2 separate regions of the Homo sapiens genome follow, and region 2 is linked to region 1. The links come from fine-mapping of genetic effects on gene expression. A gene starts in region 1. The other region holds a variant in brackets. All regions are shown on one strand. Distances are between the middles of the regions.

The links.
Region 2: its variant is fine-mapped to the expression of CYFIP2 in whole blood (INTERVAL, PIP 0.94).

Annotation. Positions count from the first base shown.
Region 1 is chr5:157,263,289-157,268,659 of GRCh38, reverse strand. CYFIP2 (cytoplasmic FMR1 interacting protein 2) reads right to left here and starts at 2,537. Exons shown (of 31, transcript NM_001037333.3): 1 at 2,465-2,537. RefSeq lists an enhancer at 1,321-1,430 and a silencer at 2,111-2,630.
Region 2 is chr5:157,305,413-157,310,783 of GRCh38, reverse strand. CYFIP2 (cytoplasmic FMR1 interacting protein 2) reads right to left here. Exons shown (of 31, transcript NM_001037333.3): 9 at 2,919-3,023; 10 at 950-1,041. Among named protein-coding and RNA genes, the nearest start is that of FNDC9, 38 kb to the left of the region's middle. The variant AG/G (reference allele first, on the strand shown) is at 2,620.

The DNA.
Region 1 (5,371 bases):
CCATTTTGTGACGCTTTTGGTGGACCCCTGGGGCCAACAGTGGTCCAAAGAAGCTGCGTTGAGAGTGTAGTCCAATCTTTAAACGTAGGGACTGGGACCCGTACTGTTTTCCAGGAGCGCTTTTCCCGTTAATTAGCTTGTAGCCGATTCATCATCTCATTCAGCTTTCTGGTTGATGACAGCAGCAGAGGCCACTGAACATCAGAGAGGGCATGATTTATCAGAGGGGTCATGTAGTGTTCTACCAGGGCCTTTTACCGGTTTTTGAATTCATGTCTACTTCCTTCTCTGGGCCAGCATCTGATTTGAGTAAAACTCTCCAACCCCACTGGGTTGTACATCCGACTCTTGGCCTAATGCCTAAAGCAAGTTTTTCCTTTTTCATTTTCCAGCAGGGACTGAACAAGGCAGCCTTGGGTGCCTACAGAACCGGTCAGAACTGGCCAGGAAATATAATAAAGAAGCTTAGTGAGCAGAGAGCTAATGCCCCCAGCCAGAGGCTCAGTGCGCACAACTAGCTAGAGGCACTGACTTTGTAAGCAACAACACTATCTTCTTGAGGTCTAATAATTGCCTTGGCAAAGGGCAGCCAATGCCAACGAGGAACCCTGTGTACACAAGTTTCTCATCCCGAAAGTGGACACTGGGTGCTCAAAAAATGCCTTCTGGTGACAGTAACACCTGACCAGTCAAACAAACATGCACGCATGCACATGCATGCATACACACTCTTACAGCATTCCTGCCTGCAGGGCCAAAGCTGCCCTTGCCAAATACAGAGCTGACAGCTGCTAGATATTGTCATTTCAGGGACCCGTTCCCAAAAGAACTACCCAGCTCCCCACCTCCACTTCCAGCCCACTGTTTGAAATTCTACCATTAGTGATAGCAAATATTTCTACAGTGTTTCCCATTAAAGCTTTGTTTCCCATTAAAATGCCTCCATCCTCTGTTTCTTTTCCGGTCAAATGACTTGTAAAGCACCTGCTCTGCATCAAATGGGAACTTCTTTTGTATTTAGCTCTTCAAGATAAACACAATCATTGGCTCCTTTCTTGAAAACCATTTCTGACACTGGAGACTGGGGGAAGGGCAGGGCACTGTATGGAAGTGGAGGTGGGAGGCCACCAGGAGGGCCACAGAGAGAGGGTCTAATGGTGGAGAAAGCAACCATCAAGGCCTTCACAGGCCTGCCCAAAGATATGGACCTGATTTTTGCCCTCTAAGATCTCAGGGACCCAGGTTGCTGGCACAGCCTGTATCCAAGAGTAAGGTGAGACCCACTGCCCTAACTGGGACACAGACAGGAGGCAGGAAATGGGAACACAGGAACCGACAGTCTCCTGATTTGCCCCTCCTGCCAGCAGGCCTGCCTCCGTCTCCCTGCCCATGCTGAGGGCACAGGCACCCAGGAACTAGCAGAAAAAGATCCTTGTCCCATTCTTGGCCTAGCTGGAAGGACAGCTGATGGCTCATCAGCCCTGGTGAGTGTTTCCACTGTGCTGGGGAAAGTAGGCAAGCAAAGGTCAAAATCAGATTCCCTGTGCTGGGGAGGCACCTGGGCTGTCAGTGTCCTTTCCAGCCGGGTTCTGGATATAGAGGGCCATACTTATGTGGAACATGCTACCTGCCCCCATCCCCAAGCAGAGAGCACCTCCTCCTCTTCTTTTGCACATAGGTGGGCTGTTCTTTGGGGTGAGGGGTAGGGCTGACCTGAAAAGTAGACGCCACAACAGACAGGCAAGCATCTTCCTGGTTCTTCAGAGCTCAAGAAAAAAACCACCTTTTCCCCCAGGAGTCAGCCCACTCATCCCCTTCCCCCACTTCCACCGTGCCCGCAGCCAGCTTGGTGAGCGATGCTAGTGTAGGCCAGAAAGCTTCCAAGCGGGTCAGACCTGCTCCTCTCTCATCAAAGCCCTCCGCCCCCAAACATCGACGCTGCGCCCCTCGCCCCACCCATCACACGTTCTGTGTGCCCGAGGCGGCTGCCAGGCGGGCCCAGGCGGCTCTCGCTGGCCCTGGGGGAGGTGACGGTGGTCACGGCGGCAGAGGCAGGGGCCAGCGCTCTGCAGTACCTGGACTCGAGGATGTCGCCGCTGCCGGGCTCGCGGCCGCTGCAGGTGTCTCCGGTCCCTGAGATTAGCACCGCCTCCTCCCGGGCTGGCGGCTCCGGCCCAGGCCGCGCACCTGCTGCTGCGGCTCCCCCGCCGCCGCGCCGGAGCTCCGCGATGTGCCCGCGCCTCCCGGGCAGAGGGTCCGTGCCGCGGGACGCACGGTGGGTCCGAGGGGGAAAGGGGCCGCGTGGGGCCTGAGGCCGGGCCTCGGGCTAGCCCGGGCACAGCGCCGAGCGCCCCCCGCGGGCCGGGAGAGGGGGCGGCCCTTCGCGCATCCTCACGGCCTCATCCCCGTCCCCGGCGGCATCCTAGTCCCCGTGCCCGGCCCGAGGCCTGCGAGGGCCGCTTACCTGGCTCTGCGGCGGGTCCAGGGGAGGGGCCTGAGGCTACCGCAGGGCCCCGCGCCGGGGCGCAGGATGCTCTGCCCCGCTCCGCTGCGCCGCGCTCGGCCCCGCCCCGGCCCCGCTGCTCCGCCCGCCGCGGCTCCGCCCCCACCCAGCGCCCGCCCCTTCGCCGCAGCGGCTGTCACACAAAGGGCAGGAAATGGCTGCGGCGAGGGTCTCTCCACGCTCTCCGCTGTACCGCCGGCGCACCCAGGACCTGCCTCTCGGTTTCGGAGGACCGCTCAGCCCCCAGGCTTCCTGCCCTGGGGGCGGGAAAGGGAGGGAAGGCTTCTTCCACGGCCTCCATCACCGGGAACCACACCTGCAGCAACCCGAGGACGAGAGCTTCGGCCGCGTTCGGATCTTATTGGCCCCACATGATTTCCAAGTGCTCTTTTATCAACCCAGTCTTTATTGATTACCTATCCTGTTCCAAGTACCGTGCCAGGACTTGGGTGTGCACTGGTGTACAAAAGACAGGGTCCTGCCCCCTTGGAGTTTTATCACCTGCCAGGAGAAACAGGTGTAAATTAACCTAGCAAACGTCCAGTTACAGCCCAAAGTGCTCTGAGGAGAAGGAGCAGGGTGAAGTGACAGAAGATGCAACTGGGGCTAGGGGAAGGGGCCTTCCACCAATTGAGCTTGGTCGCTGATAGGGCTCCTTCGCTTAAGAATAAGTTCTTCCGCTCCCTTCCAGTTCCCTGGAGAAGAGTCCCTGAAGCTGCCACCTCTTTTACAGGGGCCTGCCTCAACTTCATTCTGGAAGAATTGCCTAACGGACAAATAGGTGGCAGGAAGCACTGAGAGGACAGGTACCTTTCTCTTCAAGGCTTATCTGCCGTGTCGGGCTCTTTAAAGAAGCAATTATCTGCCCAGCGGTGGCTCACACCTGTAATACCAAAACTTTGGGAGGCCGAGGAGAGAGGATTGCTTGAGCTCAGGAATTGGAGACCATCCTGGGCAACTCAACGAAACTTCATCTCTACTAAAAATTAAAAAAAAAAAAAAATAGATGGGTGTGGTGGCATCCACCTTTTGTCCCAGCTACTCAGGAGGCTGAGGTGGGAGGATTGCTTGAGCCTGGGAGATTGAGGCTACAGTGAGCTATGATCCTGCCGCCGCACTCCAGACTGGGTGACAGAGTGAGACTCTGTCTCAAAAAAAAAAAAAAAAGAATGAAAGAGAGAGACGGGGGGAGAGAGAGAGAGAGAAAGGAAGAAAGAAAAAGAAAGAGAGAGAAAGAAGAGAAGGAAAGAAAGAAGAGAAAGAAAGAGAGAAAAGAAAAAGAGAAAGAAACAATTCTCATTGAAATCCAGCCTGGTAGGCCTTCAGACCAGGCTGAAGTCAGGCTGCACCAAATTCTAACCTTGAGACACCTGAGCAGGTCACTTCACCACTCTGCTCCACAGAGGTCACCGTATCTGCAACACAGGGAATAACAGTTGCCCTTTATACCTTACAGGGTAAATAATTTGAAAACATTTGAGACATTGTGGAGTGTATGTAGATATAAGGAGTGGTTTCCTAAGGCCCACAAATTTATACTTAATCACTCAGCTGTTCCTAATAAGGGCAATTTGTGGAGGAGCCCCGTTATTCAAGCTCCAGCAAAGGACTTGTGGAAGCCTTTGCTTTCCTTTACTGATCTCACCTTATTTCCCACGTGCTCAGAATCCATAATTCCTTGTGGTTTGATCTTAAATCGCTAATTCCAATTCAAATTGCTATTTCGGAAAAAAATGACTTATATATATATATATATACACACACATACATTTCTTCCCTGGTTCAGTGTGAAAAGCTGTGGGGGTGTTTGTGGAGGATGGGTTTAAAAACAGAACTGAGGTTTCCTTTTTAAAAAATGTTTCATTTTCCACCGTGATCCTTGGGATTTCAAGTTCAGTGATTACAAATACTTAACAATGAGAATCCCAATAAATCAGATTTTCATTCTAAGGGGCATATTATTGCAGATGGTATAGTTTTTTGGAAGACGTATTTCTCCCTGTTGTTCCTTCCCTGTCTTTTCACCTTCAGGAACAAGTTGCCTAAAAACAGAAAAGACTATTACATATATATTTGGTTAGATCTTAGGCAAAAATAACTCCGACCTCTGAGTTCTATTTGTGTATAAAGGAGAGCAGTATGGTCTTTTGAAGCCACTGTGTTGGAAATCCAGAGGCTTGCCTTTTGGTTCTAGTTTTGCAACTAACAGAAGAATGATCTTAGGCAAGGAGCCTCACCCCTGTTTCCTCACCTGTTAAGTGAAGTAAGTTGGATGCTCTCCAACTTCCCTCTGAATGTGGAAAATTACATGAGTTAAAGGGCACGTCCCTCCCAGGCTTAAGGCACTTCCCTAGCTCCCCACTGCCCCCCGATGAAGCCCAAACTCTCCAGTGGCCGGAGAGGGTCTTTAAGAGCTGGCAGCTATCTCTCCATGTGAACAAGCTTGCTGTGCTTCAGCTAAAAGGAACAGCTTTTAGTTCCTCAAACTTGCTGTGTTCTCTGTTGTGCTCGACATTCGTACATGCAAGGCTTCTTCAATGGCAGTTTCTGTCCCCCCATTCCCTCCCTCCACATTCCACACTTTTTCCCAGTTTACCTGATGAAGTTCTGTTCATCTTCCTGGTATTCCTCTAGATGTCGCTTCCTCCAAGATTCCTACATGTCTGGGTTAGCTTGAGATTAGTTGTCTATGTGTCCTTAGCTGCCTGGGCTCCCTCTATCACCCCACGTATTAGTCTGCATTATAATTGTCAACACACTTCCCTGTATTCCACCATGAGACCATAAAATCTAAGGGAGCAGGGATATGTCTGTCTTGCTTTCCCATTGCATCCTTGGAGCCTGGTACTTAACAGGAGTTCAGTAAAA
Region 2 (5,371 bases), 42 kb before region 1:
AGCCTTCCTCAGGCCTCCCTTCAATATCACTCAAAGAGTTACCTGTGGAGAGGGGAGCACACGGCCCCTCACACCCAACCCCAGTCACTTCCCTAGCCTCCGCTCCCAGCCAGCTTCAGCTGGTCGAGAAGTCAGGCAGGGAAAAGTGAGGAATGAGTTCAGCATTCTCCATTCCCTGCTTTTCCTGCAAAACCCCGTCACGCGCTAGCAGCCAGAGGGTGATGAAGCGACTACATGAGCTTTCCTTTGGACACTTGTTCGCAGAGGCTCCAGGCGGATGCAGTTCAAGGACACTCCATTCATATCTTCTTAAGATGCCAACACACTCGCCCTTGACTAAAGGACGGCTGGTTCCCCTCTGTGTGGAGAGGCCATAACTTCGGGCGAGAAGCACACAGAAGGAACCTCCCTAACAGCCTCAGAGACCAAAAGAGCAGCAGAGGTTGGAGCCCCCCAACTTCAGTGAAGCACTGACACCCCAGGCCTTTGCATAGATGACCCAGAATTGTGGTTTATAAAGCGGCCGAAGGTGAGGCTGCCCACCCAATTCACGTCGACTGCACGATGGACTTAGCGCACGGTCACCTAACCTGAGAGGATCAGTGTGAGGAGGAACAACGCCACCTCTCCTCACTGGACCACTGAGGGCTGGCCACTCTTCAGGGAACGAGGTGGACTCCTGCTGTCCTGCTGAGAGGACATGCGAGTCACTGCTGGGCTGGACAAGGGGCGTGGCTGTGCTCTGAGCCCTTTTGAAGCTGGCAGCAGAGGGCGGATACAAAAGGGCTCAGAGCACCCTCGCGGCTCCCCTCCGGCCGGCACCTGTGTTCTGATGGAATCCACCTGCCCAGGGATCTGGGGAGGGAGGAGGGGCTGAAGTGGCCCCTCGGCTCTCTGCCCGGGCTGGGCATCCTTGCGGGAGCCGAGAGACATTACGGCAGGCACTCACTTGGACTTGTTCTCTTCATAGTGAGCACTGGTCTTAATGTATCTGGCCAGCTCTATCTGCATGTCGCCGAAAAGGGGCACCACCTGCAGCTGCTGCAAAGGAAGCAAACACAGCTCGTGAGATGCTGAGGAGGGGTTGGGGTGGCTGCCTTCGCTGCCACCCCACTGTGGGAGGCAGGCCTCTGTGTGTGCCTGGGGGCCGACCCCTAGTTTCTGCTTCCGATGACGCTACCATGTGACTCTGAAGCCAAACGGAGCCCTAGCCAGCGTATAGGTCCTCCCCTGCCTCCAACCAACTCTATGTTCTAGGCAACGGAGCCCAGAGAGGCAAAGTGACTTGTCCAAGGTCACTTAGCCAACAGCATGTGTGAAGGCCAAGGACTGGATGGATGGCTGCCCAGTGCAGGGTCCTTTCCACTCGAATCTTCCCTGGCTTAAAGCATCCTTGCTGTTATGATTTCTAGGCTAGAAGCAGGTGTCTGAGCGCTGTTGGTCTTCCTGAGAAAGTCTGTACTTTCAAAGCAATTAAAACCGTAATAATACCTAACACCAGAGGGCAAACAACTCCCGACCAAAAACCAGGGCAAATGGCGGGGAGGCTGGTATTTATTATGTGCTTCTCATGCACTAGGTACTATGCCAAGCACTTTAAAAACAGTATCTCAAGCCACACAATAGCCCTGTGAAGTCTGCACTATTATCATTCCCATTTCAGAGAAGAAGAACTGAAGCTTAAACAGCTTAAGTGATTTTTCATAAAGTCAGACCAGCTAGAAGTCAAGAAGCCAGGATTATACAACCCAGGGCTCTGAGTCATCTATGTAACCCCACTGAATCCTCCAGGGAACGCTACAGAGCCGATACCCTTGGTATTCATATTTTTCAGACTTGGAACTCAGTTTCAGTGATTTAGTGACTTTCCCAACGTCATCCAGCTATTAAGTGGCAGAGCCAGACTTACACCCAGGCCTGCCAAGGGAGAGGTTGTATTTCTCTTCTACCCTCATCTCATTCATGCTGACTTAGGGAAGATTTTGCAAGGGTCTCCCAAAATGAGCCCTATTTTCATCTGGGGCAACTCTAGAGAAAAGTAAAAGTTCCACCCTTGAAAACAAGCAAAGCCAAGGCACAGGATTCCTCTTAGTGACTTATGTTCCTTTTCCTTAACCTTGAAGAGTCAGTGGGACTCAGGCTCGATCTAATGCCCTCCATGTCACACCACTGAGTTCTGCTGTGAATATTAATCTGGGCTTTCCCATGACTGACCTCTCAGGCTTGCTCCATGTCGGCAGTGCCCAATGCTAGAATAAACTGAGAACATGGGAAGTTAATTCCAAAGTGTAAGATTCCTTTGCAAAATTCTAAGAGGCTTAGTTTAACTGCAAATTTTTAAAGATCTGTGGCCAAAAGATCAACTCTCAGAGGCACTGAAACACAGTGAGTATATGATGAACGTTGCTGAGGCATTCTATCCAGAGGTAAGGGCAAGCTGAGGTGGTCCCTGGTGTACCAGGTGAGAGGCTGTGATTTTGCAAATGTGAACCAATTTAAAATCCAGTCTTTAATCATTCTACTTCTGCGAGCTCTGATTTATACTGGAAATTAGAGCAGGTGCTGTCTTCTGGGATGTACCTCTTTAAGTGACAAGGGACTTCAGGAAAAAAAAAAAAA[AG/G]CAGCATTCAGAAAAGAATCACAGGGCCTCCTCCTAGCCAAATCCCAGCTGAATCCTGCAACTTGGAACGATGTGTGGCTTTCATGCAGCAGCCTTCTAGGGCATAAATGCCTCCATCAATGGCAGCTGGAGGCCCTGCCATTCTATTCTCCTCCTCTTCCTACTCTTGGGATCTTTGGAGCTACAGCTCAATTAAAAAAACCTGACAGTTTTCTGGCTCATTTCATCCCTTTCCCCCAAAGACATCTTGGCGCTGGTAACCTCAGCCCTCTGCCCAGCCCCAGCCCCAGTTGCTGACCTTAAAGAATTTATCAATTTTGCTAAGATTAATTCTCTTCTTGGCATCCAGTTTGTAAATGTTACTGACATTTCCATCCATTAGGTAGAGGCCAAAGCCCATCACCTAGAATGAGAAGAGGGCAGAGCATAGAAACTAATCACATCTGCTGGAAAAGTTTAAAAACAAAAAGGTAGGTCTGTATATGTGTCACACACACACACACACATACACACACACACACACACACCCTGTAGAGACACACATTATATTATGAAAATCTATGCATCTTCAAATAAAGGCAGGAAATGTAAGTCTAATTTCAACCAGAAATTTAGTGTATTACTACAGCAGCTACTTCTTCAGCCCTTACTATGGGCCAGAGTCTGTGCTCAGAGCTTTAATAAGCATGATTTTCTCTTGAGTCAAGTTCTCTGCAATAACCTTATTCTATAGATGAGGAATCAGAGACACAGGGAGGTTAGACAGCTCGCCAAGGCCACACAGCGAAGCAGCAGAGACAGGAGCTGAACAGGATCTGTTGACAATATTTCCGCATTTAGATCTTTCTGAGAGAAAGGGCTACTCCTAGCTCCTTGCTGTATCCCAGGGTGGGGCACAATACAGGCATCTGATGAATACTTGAACAGTTAGTGAATGTGAAAGTATCCACCTCTTTCTCCACAGAAAGGACAATGTAAATGTTTCCAAGGAGCCGCTGGTGACTTTAATTTTTTAAAAAAAATCTCTTCCTGAATTTGCCCTCTGAGTAGGTTGACATTCTTGATTCCAACCCTTCTAATAGTCTCCTGAATGCTGGCTTGTTTTGCTCCTTTTAACATGTATGCAGAAGGGGGCCTGAGCAGCTGTGTGACCATGAGAAAGTCACTTCTCTCCATTCCTCTATTTCTCATCTGACACGAACAGGGTGGAGCAGGGTACTGCTAAGGTTGCTTCCTCTGTGGGTGCATTTCCGGTTTTTTTTTTTTTTTTAAGATGGCCTCACTCTGTTCCCTACCCCACCCCACCCGGGCTGGAGTGCAGTGGTATGATCACAGCTCACTGCAGCCTCAACCTCCTGGGCTCAAGCGATTCTCTCACCTCAGCCTCCCAAGAAGCTGTGACTACAGGTGCACGCCACCACCCCCGGCTAATTTTTGTATTTGTCTGTCAAGATGGTGTTCCACTGTGTTGCCCAGGCTGGTCTCAAACTCTTGGGCTCAAGTGATCCCCCTGCCTTGGCCTCCCAAAGCGCTAGGATTACAGGTGTGAGCCACTCTGTGGGTATATTTTGTTCTGCAGAATGAACTTCATCGTTTTCTGCATAAGAGCAGACAGTGCTCCACGGTGGCATCTGAGTTCACTAACACAAACTAACCATGTGGCAAAACCATGTGAAGGCCAGATTGAAGAGGGTGGGGAACAGAGAGGGAAGAAGGCAGGGAAGTCCGGGTATGGGGGGCTGGAGAATTTGAAGGCCGCATTAAGACTACTTGGTGGGCTGGTAGGTAGTGACTTAGCTTGTGGAAAGTTACAGCAATCACCCAGGCAAAGCACCAGTGGTGAGAGGGATATGTGAACTGTGAGTGGCTTCTCCGGATTTCTGATGTTGGGACGAAGCCAGAGTGAACAAGTCTCAAAGCCACTCAGCCCTGCAAACTTAACTGAGGTGCTAAGACATGTAAAACAGGAGCACCAACACAGGGCTGGGATTCTCAGAATAGCAGGAGAGACACTGAAGGAGAAGAAAGGAAAAACCACCAGAACATTGAGAGGTGAGGATCTGGGACAGAATCAAAAGGGGCTCTGCAGCGTGTATAAAGAATGGGAGAAGGCTGTTCATGTCAGTGCTACAGCTGTGGGGCATAAGTTAGAGACAACCTAAGCTAACAATGGAATAATGGCTAAGGAAGGCTTATGGAAATCACATTATTTCACAGCAGCATAACATAGCCAAATAAATTTAGTCACATGAGATAAAATGGATACATGGTCATGCAGATTGCAAATTTTGAAAATATATAAGCATAGAAAAAAAACTTAGAAGGACGTACATAAAAATGCTGAAAGTAGGCCAGGCGCAGTGCCTCATGCACGTAATCCCAGCACTTTTGGAGGCCGAGGCGGGCAGATTGCTTGAGCCCAGGAGTTCAAGACCAGCCTGGTCAACATAGGAAGACCTTGACTCTACAAAAAATTTTTTAAAAAAATAGCTGAGTGTGGTGGCATGTGCCTGTAGTCCCAGCTACTCAGGAAGCTGAGGTGGGAGGATCGCTTGAGCCTGGGAGTTAGAGGCTGCAGTGAACCATGATTGTGCCACTGCACTCCAGCCTGGGAGACAGAATGAGACTCCACCTTGGAAAAGAAAATGCTAAAAGTGTTAACTCTTGGTGAAGAGATTGTGAGAGATTTAAATTTTTTTATGCTTTGCTGTATATTCCAGATTTTCCAAAACAATACATATGACAATTCTG